Linked DNA regions of Homo sapiens: region 1 is linked to region 2. Evidence: fine-mapped expression QTL. A gene starts in region 2. The other region holds a variant in brackets. All regions are shown on one strand. Distances are between the middles of the regions.

Evidence for each region. PIP is the estimated chance that this variant, and not a neighbour inherited with it, causes the effect.
Region 1: its variant is fine-mapped to the expression of AJAP1 in whole blood (TOPMed, PIP above 0.99).

Annotation. Positions count from the first base shown.
Region 1 is chr1:4,705,316-4,715,092 of GRCh38, reverse strand. It overlaps AJAP1 (adherens junctions associated protein 1), which reads right to left. Exons shown (of 6, transcript NM_018836.4): 2 at 2,394-3,193. Among named protein-coding and RNA genes, the nearest start is that of AJAP1, 56 kb to the right of the region's middle. RefSeq lists enhancers at 3,486-4,102, 4,103-4,721, 5,172-6,084 and a silencer at 8,946-9,140. The variant AGTGT/T (reference allele first, on the strand shown) is at 4,626.
Region 2 is chr1:4,650,590-4,660,366 of GRCh38, reverse strand. AJAP1 (adherens junctions associated protein 1) reads right to left here and starts at 5,758. Exons shown (of 6, transcript NM_018836.4): 1 at 4,913-5,758. The coding sequence starts at 4,941. RefSeq lists an enhancer at 7,718-7,767.

The DNA of each region.
Region 1 (9,777 bases), 55 kb before region 2:
CAGCACTCCTTCCATCTGGGGAAGCTTAAACAGTTGTTTTCCTCCCCCTGCCCCATCCCCCTCTACTTGGGACTTCAGATAAGGAGATTATGCAGCCTGTTCTCAGTAGCCTAAGCAAAGATCTCACCTCCTGCATCACCAGCAAGTACTTCCCAGTGTGTAACCTAAATTGTTCCTGCTCTGGTCTAATTCATTTACATGGTACCCACTGGGCTATGAGGAACCCAGTTAGGGGAATCATCCCCGCATTTCCTCTCTTCCCTTTGCCTTGGCTGGGAAGCTCAGGATGGTGGCCTAGCCCTGATGAGCGCTGCTGTAAACCACCTGTTCCCTTCCCTGTGGCCCAGCATTGCGTTCCAGAATTAACATTTCTCTGCATTAGAAACAAACACACATATTTTCCTCTTTTTAGATTTGTTTTGCTAAACAAATTAATCTAGCACCAGATTATATTATGAAGAACCATAAATCGCTTCCAAGATAAGCATCTGTCGAGATGGATTAGCAACATCCAATGCACTGTGAATTAATTTGCTAAGCCTACAACGCTGTCCCGGGTGTTTAACTTTAGTAATAACAAATGTAATTTGGAATAAATGGGAACTTGTTTCCTCATCCATGTCTATATAGTAAGTGACGTATACAGAGGAGGTGACAGTAAGGGAGAGTAGCAAGAAATCCTACTATGATGATGGCTGCTGAGTTTACTGAGGTAAAAATGAACACTCTGTAAACTGCTAGCAGGCGCCTGACAGTGCAGGATGAGCTGCAGACCCCGCATGTCCGTGGATTCCCAAAAGAGGCTGCATGGGAGGAAGCCGATGCAGGACCTCCAGAGTCTCTTCCTCCGGAGCCTCTTCCTCCAGAGCCTCTCCCAAGCCCACAGCCTCCATCTCTGGGCATGGCCCTCAGCATGCGCAGGGAGCCCAGGCTGTGCTTCCATAGAGACATTGCTCTCTAGGGAAGAGGAGCTCAGAAAAAAAACCGCAGGTTCTCTTGTCCAGGTGAAGGAAGAAAGTAGGTCACCGGCTGAAGGACAAAAGCCACCCACCCCATGAAAACCTGTCCAAGGACTGCCCGGTGCCTGCCTGCCCAAGATGAGGAGGAACCAGGGCCAGGACGCAGTCTAGTGAGGACGCAGAGGGCCTGGATGCCATGCCGGCCGCCTGCACATGAGCTCTGAAGAGCAGTTCTCTTCCCTCCCCTTGATTCTGCAGAGGCCTGGGTGGGGCCTACCGAGCCCACAAGCTGGAGGTTGTGGAAAGCAAGCTGTGAGGAGGCCACAGGGCGCCCCCGCCCACTTTGTACTGACGCCCTAAAATCTGCATCCGATTTTAAAGTTAGCAAATGTTGCTGTTTGTCTAGAATGTGTATGCACAGATCTAGGTTGTGAACTTCTGAGCCAACCTGGCACATCGGGCTGTGCCTGTTAACAGAGGCAGAGAAAACTGGAGGGAGGTGAGGGTGACGGGGTGCCCAGGGCTCTGCGCTCTCCCCGCAGGCCTGCTGTGAAGCCTGGTGACATCAGTGCAGGCTACCAGTTCAGGGACAAGCCCTGGCTTGGGAGATTTCCAAGGGCTACTCCTTTCAAAGCAAATGGAGGACAGCGTATAGGAGGAAAATAAAAAACAACAAAACTGCACAGAAGGAGATATTCCAAAGCCAGTGAACTGTGTGTGTCCACAGGCAGCTAGGATAACAGCAGCAGAAGAACCAAAGCCCTTTGTTCTGATCTCCGTCCTCCAAACACCCTCCTGACACATCCCCAGGGAGCCGAAAGGTGCCACCTGAATCACTGTCTGCGAAGGTTCTGTTAACACCGCAGGAAGTTCTTCCTTTTACCCAGCCTCGGCCTTTCTTGCTATTTAAGGCCATTCCTAATCCTCTACCGAGGTCAAGTTGGCAGGCACCCTGCCCCCGTCCATGCCCCCGTCCATGGGTCCCATACCCTTGAAGGCTTTTGAAGACTCTGGGGCGGGGGGATCCTTAATTGTATCACGAGACGGGCAAGCATCTTGCTCAAGGGCCGGCCCCAGAGACAAAATTCTCTGATTCTGGAAGGCGTGGCTGTGTGTGGTGGATTCCACCGGTCTGTAACAGGGCTGCAGCACCTGGTGGATTCAGCTGGTCCCTAACAGAGGCACAAGGGGTGCAGCGCCCACTTCTAGGTACATACTAAAAAGGGAAACTCTCCCTTCTCACGCCCCCTTCCTCTAAGGCACAGCCTGTATTTGCCAGTCTACAGGCATGTGCAAGCTCATGGACACATCACGCCTGCATCTCCTGGAGCCTCCACACATAGCATCACCCAGGGACATCTAAGCATCTCTCCCGAGTCACGCTCCCAGCCCTCAACCCCAAGCAAACCCAAACCAGAAGAGAGATGGCTGTACCTGAGGCCTCCCCCAGAATCCTTGGGGGCTGGGTGACTTCCCCGTTGTTGCTGGGACTGGTGGAAGGCTCCGTTGTGCTAACCCCACCTGGGATCCTTCTCCGGGGATCCAAGGACTCGGTGAACCCCTTAGTCTGCAGCGTCATGGGGGTGGCCGTGGTGGTGGTGGTGGTGGTGGCGGCCACAGTTGTCTTCCGTGTTTGTAGGATGGAGACCGTGGTGGGGCCGTAAACGCCCGGAAATGTGTTGGACTCCAGGGCCTCCTCGTCCCCCGTGGGCCCCCAGGCGATGAACTCAGTCTCTGTGGTGGGCCGGCTGCCTCTGGAGTCGAAGCTGCTGAGACCGTCCCCCTGCAGGTGCCTCTTGCCCCTCCTCAGGAGGGCCTGCTGCTCCGGGGCCCCACCGGCCACCGCGGAGGACGAGGACGAGGACGAAGAGGCGAGGGAAGGGCTGGATTTGGCAGCAGCTGGGGGCTTGGCCAGTCCTGCCTTGGGCACGAGGGCGGCCGCCTGGTCCCGGGGCCTGTGGGCCCGTCTGGCTCGAGGCATCTGCATCTGCCCGTGGATCCGCTCCACTCGGGGCGGCCGGGGGCTCCACACCGGGGCCGGGACCCGCGCTGGCTGTCCACTCCTAAAACTCCACAGCCGGGGCGGCCGGGGCGGCGACCGCGGCAGGAGCCAGAACTCCGGCCCCGGGCCCAGGGCCTCACAGGCGGGCAGGTCCACGGCGAGCTGAAACATGGCTATCAGTATCCAGGCATGGCTTCCGAGGGGGCGGCCCGGCCAGCGGATGGACATGGAGCTGTGCGGGGGGGAAAGGAGAGAAGAGCGGTCAGTGGAAGCCCAGGAGGGGGACTGGGCCCCGGGGCCCTCTCTCTCCACCCCGCGCTGTGACAAGGACGCTCTCTTCTTCTGGAAAGAGCTCCTCCTAACTTCAAAAGGGAATCCGAAACCCTTCCTTCCTTTCCTTCAAAGGCTCACTCACGTGCAAGAACAGCGCGCGCTGCGAGGGTGCGGGGAGCTGCTTCCCGGCACCGCGGGGCTGAGGCGCCTGCCAGGCACAGAGCCGGCCGGTCGCCGAATAGTCCATTTCACGCGAGCGAAAACCGAGCCTCAGAAACCCCCAGCCTTTCAGGGCAGCCTCGACAAGATAACCTGAAAAGACCTGTGAGTCCCTCCTTCCTTTTGCCCATCACACGACGAGAGGACGTAAGTGAGAGGATGGCAGCAGCGGACACCGGCCTCCACCTGGGACCCCAGGGCCAGGCGCTTTCCTCTACATAGCCCAGGCCACCCCCCGCCCACTGGGGAAGCGCCTCTCCCCAGGTCTAGGAGGAGCGGAGGTTTCAAGCTTGAAACCTCGCAGCGTGAGCGCAGGCGCTTCCCAGCACCTACACCTGCCAGGCACTTGCACTTTGCAAACACCAGCCGCTCCCGCTGCCCCTCACCCAGAGCCCGGCATGCATATCGTAAACAGGCATCGCTTTAAATGCTCTGCATGGGAAGGCTTCTTACTTCTGGCCTCCTCTGGATCGTACTCAGGGAAATGAGATCTGCTCCGGATAAACCTAAAGTTTATTGACGCGAAGTGTCTGTTCTGTTGACATTTCCGCTCCCCCTGTTTATCTGCAGTGCCGGTGCCCTTTGAAACCCTGTTATCCACCTCCTCAGCTCCCCGGAGGGCTGCAGAAAGGGCAAATCCTGCGCAACCCTGAGGAGGGCGGGGCTGCCTCTCCACGCAGCGGGGCTGCAGGGGAGAAGTCAGGGCTGGCGGGGCGGCCCCTCCCCAGTTCACATGGAGCGGCTTTGTCACCAGGTCTGGGGTCGCCTCTGGACCAGTGGACTCTCTGGTGTCACATGAAAACCAGGGCGCGGCAGAGAGCCACGTGGAAGGGCTCAGAGGAGCCAGGCCCACGCTCCCTCTTCCACCAGCACAGATAATTGAAGACTGATTATAGGTGTCATTCAAAGTCAGTTCTCGTCACCAGCCTCACGTCTGAAAGTTAAAATGAATCCCAAAACTGTAATGACTGAAGCGGGTGGGGGGCGCGAGGGTGTTCAGGTGCCAAGCGCCAGCCTGACGCCGCCCAAAGCCAGGCCTGGAAAGCAGGTTGGGTAGAGTTTTTCTTTATAAGGCGGTGAGTGACTTCACAAAGGAAGGAAGCTGTGTGTGTCATTGTAATGCGTGCACGCAAGTGTGTGAGTGTGTGCGTGTAGGCAAGCACACGTATGTG[AGTGT/T]GTACGTGTGTGACTGGGTGTGAGTGTGTGCGTGTGGGTCAAGCTGTGTGAGTGTGCCAGTGTGAGAGTGAGCCAGCATACATGAGTGTAAAGATGCATCTGGGGGTGTGTCCACGAGTGTGAGAGACTGTGCGTGAGTGAGGGCCAGGGTGTCTGTGTGTATTTGGTGCGTGTGTGAGAGTGTACTGTTGTGTGACTGTGTCCATGTGTGTCAGCATAGAAGTGTGTGAGTGCATCTATGCTCGTGTGTGTCAGTGTGTATGAGTGTATCTGTGCGTTCCTGTGTGAGTGTGTCTGTGTGAGAGTATCTGTGTGTGTATTTGTGTGTGCAACTGTATCTGTGTGTCCCTGTGTGAGCATGCGAGTGTATCTGTGAGTGTCTGTGTGAGAGACTCTATGTGTGAGTGTGTCTGTGTGTGTCTGTGTAGGAGAGTTTAGTTGTAGCTGTGTGTGAACGCATCCCTGGGGGCACGCCCTCTGTTCAGTACTGAGACCCTTGTGTCTGGTGCTGACTCTCCCAGATATCTGGGGAACAGATGGCCCCCCAGTCATCAGGATGGTGAGAGAGAAACTCTTGCTAATGAGTGCTAATTACCAAAAAGGACTAATCCCCAAACAATAAGGCTTCAGTTTTTCAATCAGAATAGAAGTGCTTTGCTGCAGAAATGAGGACCTCCACATTATGCTAATCCTCAGCACGGTGTTTCTGCTGGTGTGCAATTTCTCTGCACTAGCAGCCAAGCTCGGGGCAGGGACCAGGGCCACTGTCACCACAAGGACGAATTTAGGTTAGGGTGAAATTCCCCCATATACACACTAAGGTAGCTCCTCTGTGGCTGCAGGTGACCCAGTGAGGATGGGAGCTGGTTTAGAATCTCTAATTCTCCCATGACCTGCAGAGCTGGGTGGGAGTCTAGCCCCAGGAAGATGAGATGCTGCTCTGAGCAGGTGCAGGGTCTCACCAGGCCCCACCAAGCCCCTTCAGGCTCCACCAGGCCTCACCAGACTCTGCCATGGTCTTCCAGGCCTCACCAGACCTCACCAGGCCTCACCAGGCCCCACCACACTCCACCAAGCTCACCAGGCCTTACCAGACTGCACCAGACTCCAACAGTCCCCACTATACTCCACCAGGCCCTGATTAGACCCCACCAGGCTTCACCAGGCCCCACTACACTCCACCAGGCCCCACCGGCCCCCATCAGGCCCCACCGGCCCCCACCAGGCCCCACCAGCCCCCACCAGCCCCCACCAGGCAGGCTGAATCAAAAGCCATGACAAGCAAACCTGCCTGCCATCAGTACTTAGAGAAATATTGCCCCAGGAAATTAAAACCATAGCACCTAAGCCCGTGCCTGCCTCGCTGGCATAACTTCACACACAGGATATTTCTGTGATTTTTCACCAATCATGGCTGTAATTGGTTACTATAGAAACCCCCTCATTTCTAAGACACCCAGCTGTTATGCAGAAAAACCAACCAATTGCAACAGTGGCAGGGAGAGGTCGATTTGTTTTTCCTCTTCAAGTCTGGTTTCTTCCTTTTTAAAGTGATTGATTTGTTCAGAGAGGAAAAAAAAGAGGGCAGGTGGGCAACCAGGACAGAGGCCCCAGCCCACTCCCAGCAGCCAAGAAATGTGGGGGGCAGGGGGAAAGCCCCTCCCATAGGAAGACGTGTAGGGGCCACTGCTCATTTCTGTGCAAGGCCAAGGGCCCCAGGCTCTGCATTGCCACCAAGACGGCTGAGCTTGGTGTGCTGCCCGGACCTGGTCCTGAGACTCTTGGGGACCCCTTGGTGAGAGGCTGCATCTCTGCAGCAGGAGGACTTGGCTCTATCTCCAAGGACCAGTGAGCAGTACAAACAATCTCTGTCCTCATCCCTTGGGCGGCTCTGAGATGAGGCAGAGCCTGGGAATACTCTTCTCACTGATCCTGCTCAGCCTGGGGCTTGGCCCTGAGCACCTCTCATTTCATGATGAACAGATTTCGGGAGGGCCTCACCCCATAGGGCATCCATGGCACTGTCAGACATGCACCAAGATGGCAGGCGACCCCACACCTCCTCTGGAGGCAGGCCCTGTGGCATGGCTGCCGACCACAGCACCAACCATCAGGAGGCGAGGCTGTGGGGCAGGCAGAAGTGGCACCAGCTCCCCTGAAACTCAAGCATCCACAGGCCCCTTAAGAACATACCGCCCGGCCAGACATGGTGGCTCACGCCTGTAATCCCAGCACTTTGGGAGGCCGAGGTGGGAGGATCACGAGGTCAAGGGATCGAGACCATCCTGCACAACATGGTGAAACCCTGTCTCTACTAAAAATACAAAAATTAGCCAGGTGTGGTGGCGTACACCTGTAGTCCCAGCTACTCGGGAGGCTGAGGCAGGAGAATCGCTTGAACCCAGGAGGCGGAGGTTGCAGTGAGCCGAGATCATGCCACTGCACTCCAGGCTGGAGATGGAGTGAGACTGCGTCTCAAAAAAAAAAAACAAAAAAAAAACGTACCGCCCACATCACACCCACAGAGAGAGCTACAAGCAGAAAGACAGAGAACATGAAGTGCTGGCGAGGACACGAGGAGATGAGAGACCTAGTATGCTGTTGGTGGGAATGAAAACCAGAATGCCTCTGGGCAAAACAGTTTGGCAATTCCTTGGAACCCTAAAGACAGAGTTCCAGGGACCCTGCTGCCCCTCTCTTAGGCACAGACATCTGTCCACATGAAAACCTGCACTGGGAGGCCCAGGGCCACACTCACAACTCACAACAGTCAAAGCTGACTCAGCTCACGTGCCCGTCAGCTGAGGAATGGATAAAGGGGATCTGGCATAATGTTACAATGGAGTATCGTTCAGCCTTTAAAAGGAAGGCAGGATTACTTGATCTATGCTACAATGTGGAAGCACCTTGAAAACCCTGAGCAGGGAAAGAAGCCAGGCACTCAAGGCTACACGGTGCCCGGTTCCGTTTATAGGAAATGCACAGAGTGACCAAATCCACAGAGACAGAAAGATGAGCAATTGCCCAAGGCTTGGGGAAGGGGTAATGGGGTAGGGGGTTTCTTTATGGGGTGACGAAATATTCTGGAATTGTGTGTGGGGGTAGCTGCACAACTCTATGCCTATACAAAACCCACTAAACTGTACATTTGTAATAGGTGAGTTTTGTGCAATGTATATCCCAATACAAATCAAAAGGAACATGCTAGAGAATGGGGTGTGTGCAAGGGTTGTGGGGACAATGTGGAGTGCATGGCGTGGCACCCTAATCCTGGCCCTGGCGGATGGGTGGAAGGCAGAGCGGCCCCCAGAGCTGCAGGCACATGGGCAGGAGGAAGCCATGGAGACTTTGGGTTCATCCACCCAGTCCTCACTGGGACACCCTGAACGTGAGACAGGGTCCCTGCCTGAGCACCTGAGGACCACATCCACACCCTTTGAGAAGAGGCAGGGACAGCTCCCTCTCAGCAGCCTCGAGCCCATGATTTTCAAAGAAAGAATAAACTCCTTGCCACCACCCCCTGCTCCCCAGCTGCTTCCAAATGGGGAACAACTGCTCCGTCTCACTTTATTTTCTAGTTTGTGGCTTTCTTGCTTCTCTTCCTTTTAAATTTTTATTGAAATCTTTTTTCCCGAAGAACAGTTTAATAAGATTTGGTGAATTGAGATTCAATTCACTACCTTCTGTATATTTTCTTCACAGAAGAAAATCACTGTCAATTAAGGGGCCAAAGACATCTCTTCCACTTAAAGTTGCACCTTTCCCCGAGCCGGGAGTGTGCGGCGTGAGCCTCCTGGGAGCAGCTGGTGTCTGCCTTGTGGGAGCACTGGTGCAGTGAGAAGCAGGCCAGGCCCTGGAATTGTTCCACCGGGGAACAGCCCAGAATCTTCAGGGTGGGACAGGACCTTGGAGCTGTGCCTGTGGCCAATCCACCCCAGCCGTTCCACGAAGACACCCACTTCCCGTGACTCCTCCAGGTCCTGTCGTTTACTGGCTCTGGGGCCCAGGAGAAGGATGCTGCATTTGATGGGGAAGTTAGCTTGGCATGGGCTTGTAGCTTCCCACTCTGCAAGCCCCAGTTTTTCTGTCATTCATACCAGTAAGTTGGGGCAGGTGGGCTCTGAGGTCTCCGCCTCCTCGTTGAAGAAGACCCGTGCTTCTACGATCAATAGTTCACAGGGCACCGCTAGAAACAATCTCCAGGAAGCAGAAAGAATAGACACAGACATATTTGTTCTATGACACAGCAGTGCCGTTGGCTTTTTGTGAGTCCATGCTCTTTTGTGGAAGGCCCCACCCAGGAAGTGGACCTCCCTTCCCCGAGGACCCAGGGTCTACCCCTCGGTCCCCAATGACCCGTGTCCAGATGCTTCCTGACTTCCACCCTACTTCTATTGGTTTGCTTCAAAAAAGCTTTTTATTTTAGAATAGTTTAAGACATTCCAAAAAATTCCAAAAGAGCCCAGAGAGTTGCTGGGAACTCATCTCCAGTTTCCCCTCAAGGGATACCGTAGGTCACCATGCCACAGCGTCATGGTGCATAACCAGGAACTACACACGTGGCTTGGACTTCTCCAGTTTGCACTTAGCTTAGCGTCCGTTTTCAGTCCCAGGAACCCATCCAGAATACCACGTGGCATCAAATGGTTGTGTCTCGTTTGGCTCCTCTTGGCTGTGATGGTTTCTCAGGCTTTCTCTGTGGCTGATGACCTTGATGTTCTAAGGAGGACTGGTCAGGGATTGCATAGAATGCTCCTCTTCATTGATTGATTGGTCTGAAGTGTGTCCCGTGATGAGACCGGCCTTCTGTGTTTTGGGGGATGCCCACAGAGAGGAAGTATCTGCCTCATACAGGGTACCCAGGGCACCTGCTCTCAACAGGACCCCTCCCTGCTGAAGCTGACCTTGAATAGCATTTGCCAGGGACGTTTGCCCAGTGCTGTCACTGGGAAGGCAGTCCTGCTCCTTTCCAGAATCTTTGGAAGCAGGTCACTAAGCACAATGCACATTCTTGGAGGGGGAGGAGTACTCATTAAAAAAAAAAAAAAAAAAAAAAAAAAAAAAAAAAGCTCTTCAAAACTTCCCCATTTGGCTTTTGTTGCCATTGCTTTTGGTGTTTTAGACATGAAGTCCTTGCCCATGCCTATG
Region 2 (9,777 bases):
ATGTTGCCCTTTTGTAACCACACCCTCTTTCCTTCCGTTCCCCACTCCTTCTTTGACCCCTGGCAACTACTCATCTGTAGCAGTAGTAGTATGAGTATTGTACCACGTCTATAATTTTGTCATTTTGATGCAGGGCCGGCATGCCCCAAAGTGAGGCTTAGACCATGAGGGTTCTCGGCTTTGCCCAGAAAAGAATTCAAGGGCAAGCCAGTGGTAGAAGAAAAACAGCTTTATTGAGGAGGTGTTCCAGCTCTGGTGGTGTGGTGGTGTTACCGGTCCGGCAGTGTGACAGCTCCGTGTCTGCCGCTGCAGAACAGGGCTGCCCCATAGGCAGCGTGCTGAGAGTAGCAGCTCGGGGCAGCTTTGCAGTTGTATTTATACCTACTTTTAATTCCACGGAGATTAAGGGGCGGTTTATGCAGAAATTTCTAGGGAAGGGGTAGTGATTTTTGGGTCATCAGGTCATCGCCATGGAAAGGGCAGTAACTACTGGGTGTTGCCCTGGCAATGGTAAACTGACATGGCACATTGACGGGCATGTCTTATGGAATGGTGCTTCCATCCTGTCCCTGTTTTAGCTAGTCCTCAATTTGGTCCACAGTCTGAGTCCCACCTCCAGAGTCAAGTCCCATCTCCTACCTCAATTTCAATGCTATGAAATCATCATATAGTAAGTAACCTTTTGGGATTGACCCAGGAGTAGCCAGTCCTCCTCTCTCCTCCTGGTGCCTGATCTTATCCCAGCTCTGAGGCGGATGTACTTGGGGACACGCCCAAGGGCCACCAGAGGTCTGACATGGACACCCTCCAGCCTGACTCTCTATTCAAGGCAGATTAACTGAGAGTTAATCTGAATTATGTAACCACCACCACTCCCTGCTCCGAGGCCTCATGACTCACCAGCCCCTTTGAATTCCTGGAAGGGGTCTCAGAGGAAGAAAGAATGGAGTCGACTGTACCACGTTTGCCTGCTCTAGCCCCAGAAAGCCCCTGCTCCTGTCTCCTCCTTGTGTCTGATTGGCATCAGGCAGGAGAAACCCTCTCAAGCCAGACTTCAAATGTAAAATCTAGATCAAGGATATATTTGGCTTTCCAAGCTAATCTTTACATCAATTTGGTCTCTACTGACTTGTAACCCTTTGAAGAAAACTTGGCAACTACGTATTTAAAACAGATGACTCTTATATAACCCCTGAGAGGAGCCCCTGGGCTCTTGAAGGCTCAGCTGTTTGCAATCCAGTCAGGGTTTTGTGTTTACCTACTTCATTGTAACCCAGGGTCACACTCCAGGTACCCTGTGGCTTTCCCACAAAAAGCTCAGGGAAATGCAGAACCCAGGAGCACACAGGGCCCCACCTGCCAAACACCCCATTTGTGTGTGGGTCAGAGGGACTGGCGCTGTGGAAGTGGAGACTGGGTTGGGGTCCAGAAGCACCTCCAGCGACCCCCGCTAGAAAGACGCAGGTGCATGCCTTGGAGAAGCCGGCGCTGCTCTGCCTCCAGGGACCCAGAGACAGCTGTCCCCGGCAGGCGTGGGGCTGTCTCCATTCCTGAGCTGCGTTGCCCTGCTCCCCTCTCCAATGCATGGAAGAAAAGGAAGCAGGTGATCAAAGTAAATAAACAACAGGGACACACTGGGAGGAGTCTGCCATCAGCTCCTCCACTTGGCCAGTGTATCCCCAAGGTGGGGGTGAGCATGAAAGGGGGGTATGTACCGATGTTGCCCAAAGATTTGAGCTGCCTCCTAAATTTGCAGTTTAGTCAAGCATGATTGTCCCCGAGGAGTAGCACAGCCGCTGACACTAGATAGATTCCAGTTGCAATCAATTTAGTAGCAGCAGCTGGAAATCGGCGCGAGCCAGGATTCACCCGGAGCGCAATGTTTGTGGACTGCGCGTTTGACTTCATCCGCTAAAGCTGGGCTGCACAGCCCCAGCTGCCTGGGGACTCTACAGCGAGGATGGTGACAGCCAAGCCAATGGATCCCTGCCATGAGGCCCAGACATGGTACAGCGCGCACTGAGAGGGCTTGGGGAACTGTGAATTATGTCAACACACACACCCAGGGCCTCCCAAACAAAAGGGGCCCCAGAACCTTGGAGCGGGAGAACAGATGGGATGGCCGCAGGGACATGGGCTGGGAATGAGCTCGTGGCACTCTGCTAGGGATCACAGTCCTGAGCGCAACCCAGCAAACGTATTAGGTGGACGCTCGGAGCCCCTGAGGAAGCCACAGCATCTGAGGTCTGCAGCCTGGGAAGCAACTCACAACCAGGAAGCCAATTCCAAACTCTGGGCTGCTTGCTGAGTACGCGCCCCCTCCACGGGTGAGCTCTGAGCTGCTTGCTGAATACGCGCCTCCTCCACGGGTGAGCTCTGGCAGGGCTTGTCAAGCCACTGGGTCTCCTTCCGTGGCTCCCTCTCTCTCAGCTGATGGAAAGTATCTTTGGAGCTCTGCTACAACTATTAAATGCCACCGCAAAAGACACAAAAGCTGCTCAATAAGTCTCAATCTGCTTCTCCCTCTTGGGGGGAAAAGAAAAAAAAAAAGCTCCACATACAGCTCAGTTCCAACACAGACGTAAATAACCAAGCCCAGACTTCGTCTCTGGGGCCGGAACTAAGAAAGCCCACCCCACCCCCACCCCCACCCCCTGCCCAGCAAGTTACACTGCACCTCTCCCATGGTGGAGCAAGCCAGGCCTTCTGCCACCCCAGCTGGAGGCTCAGTGTCTACCTGTCCTAACCAGGCTCCAAGCTTGGCAGCAAGACGCCCAGTGCTCACCTAGGGAGCCGCGGAGTGGCTTGCAAGCAAAGGTGAAGGGCTGTCTTGAAAGAAAAAGTGCATTTCCAGACCTTGAACTTGCAACCCTTTGGCTCAGAGTCCCCAGGTGCCCATTGTGATGCAAAACCACCCAGACCCTCTGGGTACAGGCCTCCTTCTCTGGCCAGGAGACAGCAGTAACAAGACAGAGCTCTCCCATCAGGATCCCAAATAGGTGACAGCTCGTCCTTAAAGGCACACTTACAGAAAATCTCCTGTGCTGACATCGAGGGGGGAAAAACGAAAGGTCAAACTTCAAAAGAACCAACAGAACTATTTCCTAAAGCAAAATCCCAAGATCCGGCTTGAGGATGCTTGAGAGGAACTGTTTTAGTAAATTTCAAATCAAAAGAGAGGCTTCTTTCCAAGATATTTGCTCTTCTCTCCCTTTATCAAAATGTACTCATCTTTTAATCTAGCAACTTAGCAATAAAAAAAAATGTCTGTTCAAATAAGTTGCCATCAGGAATCAAGTGGCAGCTCAGGAAGCAGGTCGGAGCTGAAGACCAGCCACTGGCCAGTGTGGGGACCCGTCTGGTCATTCACAAAGCCTTGGAAGGTCTTGCTGAGACCTGGGACAGTCCGGGGCAGAGCAGGGGATGGCAGGCCTCCAGGGCACCTGGATCAGGGTCATTCCTGCAAAGCTGTCCTCGCTCCATTTTGCCAACATCCCACAACGGTCCAAGCCTAAACCTTATCTAGCCCAAGCACACTTATCGATTCACGCCCGACCAATATCCCACACCCAACACAATCGGCTCCATGATTAACCTTTGAAGCCCACAGCAAGATCGGCCACTGAGAGAAGGGATGCTAATAATAACATCTGACAATGTTCACTAGATGTGTTACACAGTATTCACCTCTGGGAGCAGAATCGGCTCATAAATCAAGGGTCGCTAGAAAACACTTGGCGTCCCAGTCCCCTTCCGATTTCTCAAAATCAGGACACGCACTAGATCCTCCCTCCCTTCGCCTCACTCCCCCCGCAGCTTCATCCCTGAGTGGGGGCGGCTCAAGCAGCGGGCTAACAACTACTGGCCTTTTCGTCCCCAACGCGGGAGCGCAGTGCATCCCAGTGGACAAACTCGAGAACCGCACGCTGCTCTCCGCCTCCACCTCTGTCCTCCCCGCTCGCGGTTCCAACCCGGGACCCAAATGCACGAGCTCGGTGAATGCCCCGGCAGGAGGGCGAGGGCTCAGAGGCAGCCTGCCCAGCAAAAACGACAGCTGTGCTCTGGTGGGCCCTGGGCCACCCCAGGCAGAAGCCAGAGAAGCCCGAGAACCCCGGCGGGCTGGCAAAGTTTGCCGAGAAGGGTCTTTCTGGACACCCCCACCACGGGCTCTAGGCTCGAACCCCCTCTTCCATCTGGCCCTGGAGTCCCAGACACAGACAAGCCCCGGGCGCGCCGGCGGGCGTATGTGCGTGTGTGTTTACAGCGGGGTGGCCGCCGGAGCTCCCCAAGAACCCCAGCTCTCCCGCCCCAGCTGCCCGCCAGCTGTGAGCGCCCGTCGGGCCCGGAGGTCACCCGCAAACAGCTGGGTCGGCAGCTGGGAGCCTGGGAGGCCCCTGCTCAGCCCCGGGGCCCCGAGAAAGGAGAAGGGGGAGCGGAGTGGCTGTTTGGCTGTGGTTTCCTCCAACTCCGCCTGCGAAGCTCTCGCTGGGAGCCCGGAGCTTTAGCTTTCCCCGGCAGCCCCGGCCCCCGCGCCCGCCGCGCCCAGCGGCCGGCGCCTCGCCCCGGGCCCCGGGGAGGAGGCGCGCCGGGGCAGCCGGCCAGGACACTGCGCTGCTGGCTCCTAGAGCTGCGGGCGCGCCTGGCCGGCCCCACTTCCCGGGTTGCTGGGGCGGGCGCCGCTGCCCCGACCCCGGACGCGCGGAACCCTGGAGACCCGGCCGCTCCCCGCCAGGGCCGCGGTGCTGCTCCAGGCTCCGGGCGGGCGCCCCTTTCCGGCTACCGGTGCACCCCGTTGCCCGCTTGCGGGAAGCGAAGAGGGGTCCCTTGATTTGCAACATAGAGGAAAGCGCCGCTTCCGCCCAGCCTGGCACCCACGCGCCCACACGCACCCGGCGCCGGCCGGGTCGCTCACCTGAGTCCTAAAAGCTGTTGAATCCACATGGTCACGTTTCGGGGAGCGGGGCCTCAGACCTGGCTCGCCCAGGCCATCTGCGCGGCGCCCGCGCCCGCTCGCTTCCGTCCCGCGGCGCCGGTCTCCGGCTCTCGGTCCGCCGCCTCCCGCCGCCCGCCGGCCGCGGGGCGCACAGCGAGTCAGAGCGCGGCCGCGCGGGGCTCCATGCCGGCCGGCGCGCCGCCGCCGTTGGGGCGCATGGCTCAGGCTGGGCGGCCCGCGGGGGCGCACATCCTCCGGCCGGGGCGCGGGGCTCGCGGCCCCCTCCGCCGGCGGCACAGCGAAGGCGGCAGCGAGGCGGGGCGTGTTCCGGCGCTGTCGCGGCGCAGCAAAGGGCTGGGGAGCCGCGGCTTCGCCCTCCGGGGCGGCGAGGAGGGAGGCCGGCGGCGCTGCCGCTCACGGTGCGTGTCTCCCGGCGCGCGGCTCTTGCCTCCAGCCGGAGCTCCGCGCCGATGGGGCGGCGCTGCTTAGGGTTTGGGGTGACGCGACGCGGACGGACGCGAGTCCCCTCCGCGCTGCCGGGTCGGGGGGCTCTGCCAGAGGCTCCGCCGCCGATCGGCGCCACTCAAGTTGCCCGGGGGCTCCGTCTGAGCGCTCGCTCTGCAGACGGCCGCGGCCCGGAGACTGGCAGGAGGCGGGCACGAGAGGCGCGCGGGGCGAGGGCGCCGTGGAGCGCGGGGCGTGGGGACGCGCGGCGGCGGCGCCGCGCGGAGGAGGCGCGCGGGGATCCCGGGGCCCCGCCGCCCGCGCCCACCGCGCCCGCCGCAGAGCCGCCCGCGCTGCTCAGCCGCCTCCCTCCTCGCGTCTGCCTCTCCGCGCGCTCGCCCCCGCCTCCCGGAGCCGGTCCCAACTCCGCCCGCCCGGCCCGGCTCACGTCACCCGCCTTCCCCGCCCCTCGAACGGGAGCTCGAGCCCCTGGCCTGGCCCCGGCTCCTGCTCGCCGCCCCACCTTGCGGGGGCCGGGGTCGCCGCGGGTGGTGGGGGGCGCTGTGCCCAGCAGGGGCGACAGCGCAGGCGGGGCCTCCTGCAGCCCCCTTCCCCATCCCCGGTCGCGTCCCGGTCCCCACCTTGCGAAAGGCTCGAGAGAGGCCGCAGGCTAGGATTGGACCGCCGGGCGCCGCCGGATGGTGTTGCCAGGGTAACCGGATGGCACGCGAAGCCGTTCGAGGTTCCGACCCGGTTACGGGGGCGCCCAGTGGACCCGGAGAGCTACTTTGGGGAGGGGGCGGCCCCGAAGAAGGACTGGGTGGGGGCGCATGGAGCGGGGGCTGCGCGAAAAGTTTCCTGGGGCGGAGCTGAGCCACGCGGGCCGCGCAGGAGCGTCTGTCCGAGGGTCGCCTACGAGGGACTCCTCTGCTCGGCTGCGCGGGCTTCTGCGTTGATGAAGTCACCGCGTTCCGGGTCGGAGCTTCGGCGCTTCTGCCCCGAACCCAGCGAAGCCCGGTCCTATGCCCCCAATTACCCAACGGTCCCTCATCGCCCAGCGCAGCTGCTGCCTGGCCAGGCCCTTGCTCCGGAGGAGTCACTGGAAAGTTCCAGGGAATCTGGGCCTCCCGGACTCTCCACCGGCGTTTCACTGCTCCCTTCCCATGCCAGGACTCCTCTGTGCCTACCTGGTTAGTCTGTATTTGCAAAAAACAAACAAAAACAACAACAAAAAACAAATGGGGGGCACTTAAAGGAGGACAGACGCTGGGCGGGGACCTTTCACTGAGAGAAGTGACATGGGGCGGAATCCTCTGCAGACCCGCTGACGCCTTGAGAAACCACGGCAAAACCCTGCTTTTAATCCTCCACAGGCTGAGGGCAGTGCAGAATCCGGGCCTTGGAAAGGACACTGGTGCCACCCTTCACTGGGGAAAGGTGCAAGGGGCGGGGGATATACCATGCCGAGCCTTCGCTCTGTGCTCTGTGCAGGTGCTTGACCCAGGCCAGCTCTGGAATCGCCCCAGGCCATGTGAGAGCCGTGGGGGGTGAGAGGGGCGGGAAGCACTTCACAGGTGAGGCCTCCCTGGGAGGGGCAGCCAGTGAGGGGGTGGAAGGGCAGAGCCAGGAGGACCATGGCTTGGGGCTCAGTCTCCCAGGCGAACCATAGCTTGGGGCTTAAGTCCCCCAAGCAGCCCTTTCACCCCCAGGCCTCCAGGATCTTTGCCAACGGTCTTGAGGAGCCAGGCACAGGATTGGACTCTGCCCGGGCAGGAGGATGAAGACAGTGACTTCCCCACCAAGACTCCCGGCAGAGGGCCAGAGGCAGGGAAGTGTGGTGGCAGGAGGGCCAGCCTTGCCGTGGCTGGACCAGGGGCCAGCGCTTGCTAACTCGGGGTCCTGGCCGAGTTGTGTGGCCTCTCCGACCCTCGGTCTCCTCATCTGTAAGATGGGTCCCACAGCCCCTCCCCGGGGAGGTGTTTGCAGGGCTCCATGAGAAGGCCTTACACACACTGTGGCTATGGTGATCTGTGAGCCGGTCAGAGGACCCGAGAGGCAGCAGGGTGACTCAGCAGTTTCCCTGCCGGGCCGCCCCTGGGTCATCGTCCCCTAGAGCCTCTCCCTGAGGGGTGTGAGGGAGCGGATCCCATTAAGAGGCGAAGGAGGCAGGGAGGTCCTGGAACCAGCGGGGCCTATGGCGGCCGGCGGGGAAGGAGGCGCCGGCAGTGCTGCCACCTAGCGGTGTGAGGAGGCGGTGCTGCACCAGGGAGGCCCTTCCTGCAACCGGAGTGGGCCTGGAAGGGGCCGGCTTCGCACACTAGGAGCCAGCAGGGCAGGGAGGGGCTCCGGACCGGACCGTGTCGGCTCCAGGAACCCCTTGGGCAGCCTTGTGGACACCTGCTGACCTCTCTCAGAATGGCTTCTAAGTGCATAGATGAAAAAGCCCAGGATTATTAGGAAACCAATTCTATGCAAATGCATTATCAAAAGAGTAATAAAAACAAATTTCTGATATAGCCGTATATATTATTTATTAATACACTTAGTAAGCAATTGACAGATCCTAAATTACGTTCCTTTTGAAGTCCAGATATGCAGCAATAATATCCTGAGGTAACTGCAGCCATGGCAGTGTGATATGGAAATGCCAGTGCTTTCTATGTTTGACGGTCACAGGCACTGAGCTCTGCCACCGACATTGATAATGAAAGGAAATGCCAAGTCTCAGTTAGGGTTAAATAAAGATGCCAGTTTTCCCCCATACGAGTTGAAAGACCCTTTGAATTCTATCCAAGTACCCTGGGAATCTCTGGACAAAGAAAATAGTAGAAGGAAGTGTTTTCTGACAACCGAGATGGGAACAAGCCCTGCAGAAGTCTCCAGGCGAAGTCAGAGCCTTAAGACTACAGCTGCTGCCCCGGGTGAGTGAGGGCTTCTTCAGTCTATGGGGACGGAGGATGCCCTCTGCCCTCACCCAGGCTTAAAATTAGGATTTGGGACCAGGGTACACTGATTTCCTTTTTCTCTAGGGTAACTCAGGTCTGCCTCTCTCCAAAAAGAGCAATCCACCTATTATTATTATTATTATTATTATTATTATTATTATTGAGATGGAGTCTCACTCTGTCACCTGGGCTGGAGTGCAATGGCATGATCTCAGCTCACTGCAACCTCTGCCTCCCAGGTTCTCCTGTCTCAGCCTCCTGTCTCAGCCTCCCGAGTACCTGGGATTACAGGTGTGCACCACCACGCCCGGCTAATTTTTGTATTTTTAATAGAGACAAGGTTTCACCATGTTGGTCAGGCTGGTCTCGAACTCCTGACCTCAGGTTATCCACCCACCTTGGCCTCCCAAAGTGCTGGGATTGTAGGCCTGAACCACCGCGCCCAGCTTATTATTATTATTTCGATGACAAAATCATTGTCTTTTTTTTTTTTTACAGACTGTAAAACGACAAAACCTTAACTTGCATTTCAGCATTTCTAGAACTGGTTTTCTATACATTGATGGCTCTCATATTTCTAACTGGTTCATTTTTCTTCCCTTGGGGATTGGGAAGCTGTGTGTATGTCACTCCCACCCAACACACACACACACACGCGTGTGCGCGCGCACACACACACACACACGCCTCCCAGCTTCGGCGATACAAAAGGGAACTGTTCAGATGTTCATGCTGTGGAAAGTTCTTCCGGTCACCCTGCTAATTCTGGCCCTTTCTCCCCGCTGGGGGAAGTCCACAGCCTGGAACCCTGGGGAACCCCTGCGGTCTCCTCACCTAGTCCCCTCCCCTATTTTCCCAACAAAGGAGCCAGCAGGCCCCTGCAGGAGGTCCTCTTTGAAGCTCTCTGAGGCCATTTATCTAATGGCCTTCACAGACTTGACTATTTTTAAAACCCATCCAAAGCCAAATTGAGCTGCCATTGTTCATTTTTCTCCCAAGGAGGTAAATGTGTCTTAACCATGACATTTGATTAAGTAGCTAAGTTTGTGATTTTAAATGGAAGGGAAAATGCTGATTAAAATTATTATAAGTTTCTTGAAAGCATTCACAGGAGTGTCTTCCCTGACTCTCCTATCTTCCTGGCTACCCCCCTCCCAGTAAAACTTGCAGGAAGCTCATGGTTGTCGGGGGCAGGGGGAGTGACGCAAAGTCGCTTTTCCTTCTCAGGGAGGTTATATGCTGGAGATTTGGGGTTTCCTCCCCCTGGCACCTGAGCTGTTTCCTGGGTGAGGCTGCACACAGCTGCACTACACGCATAGCTGAGCGCAAGGCAGAGACCAAGCCTTGGGGCAGAGGTGGGAGCCAAGAAGCTGTACTCCCACCCACAAAATGACTCACAAGACAATCATCCTGCAGCCCAGCACTGGCCGGCAAGAGAAAATGCCAGGTCTGAAC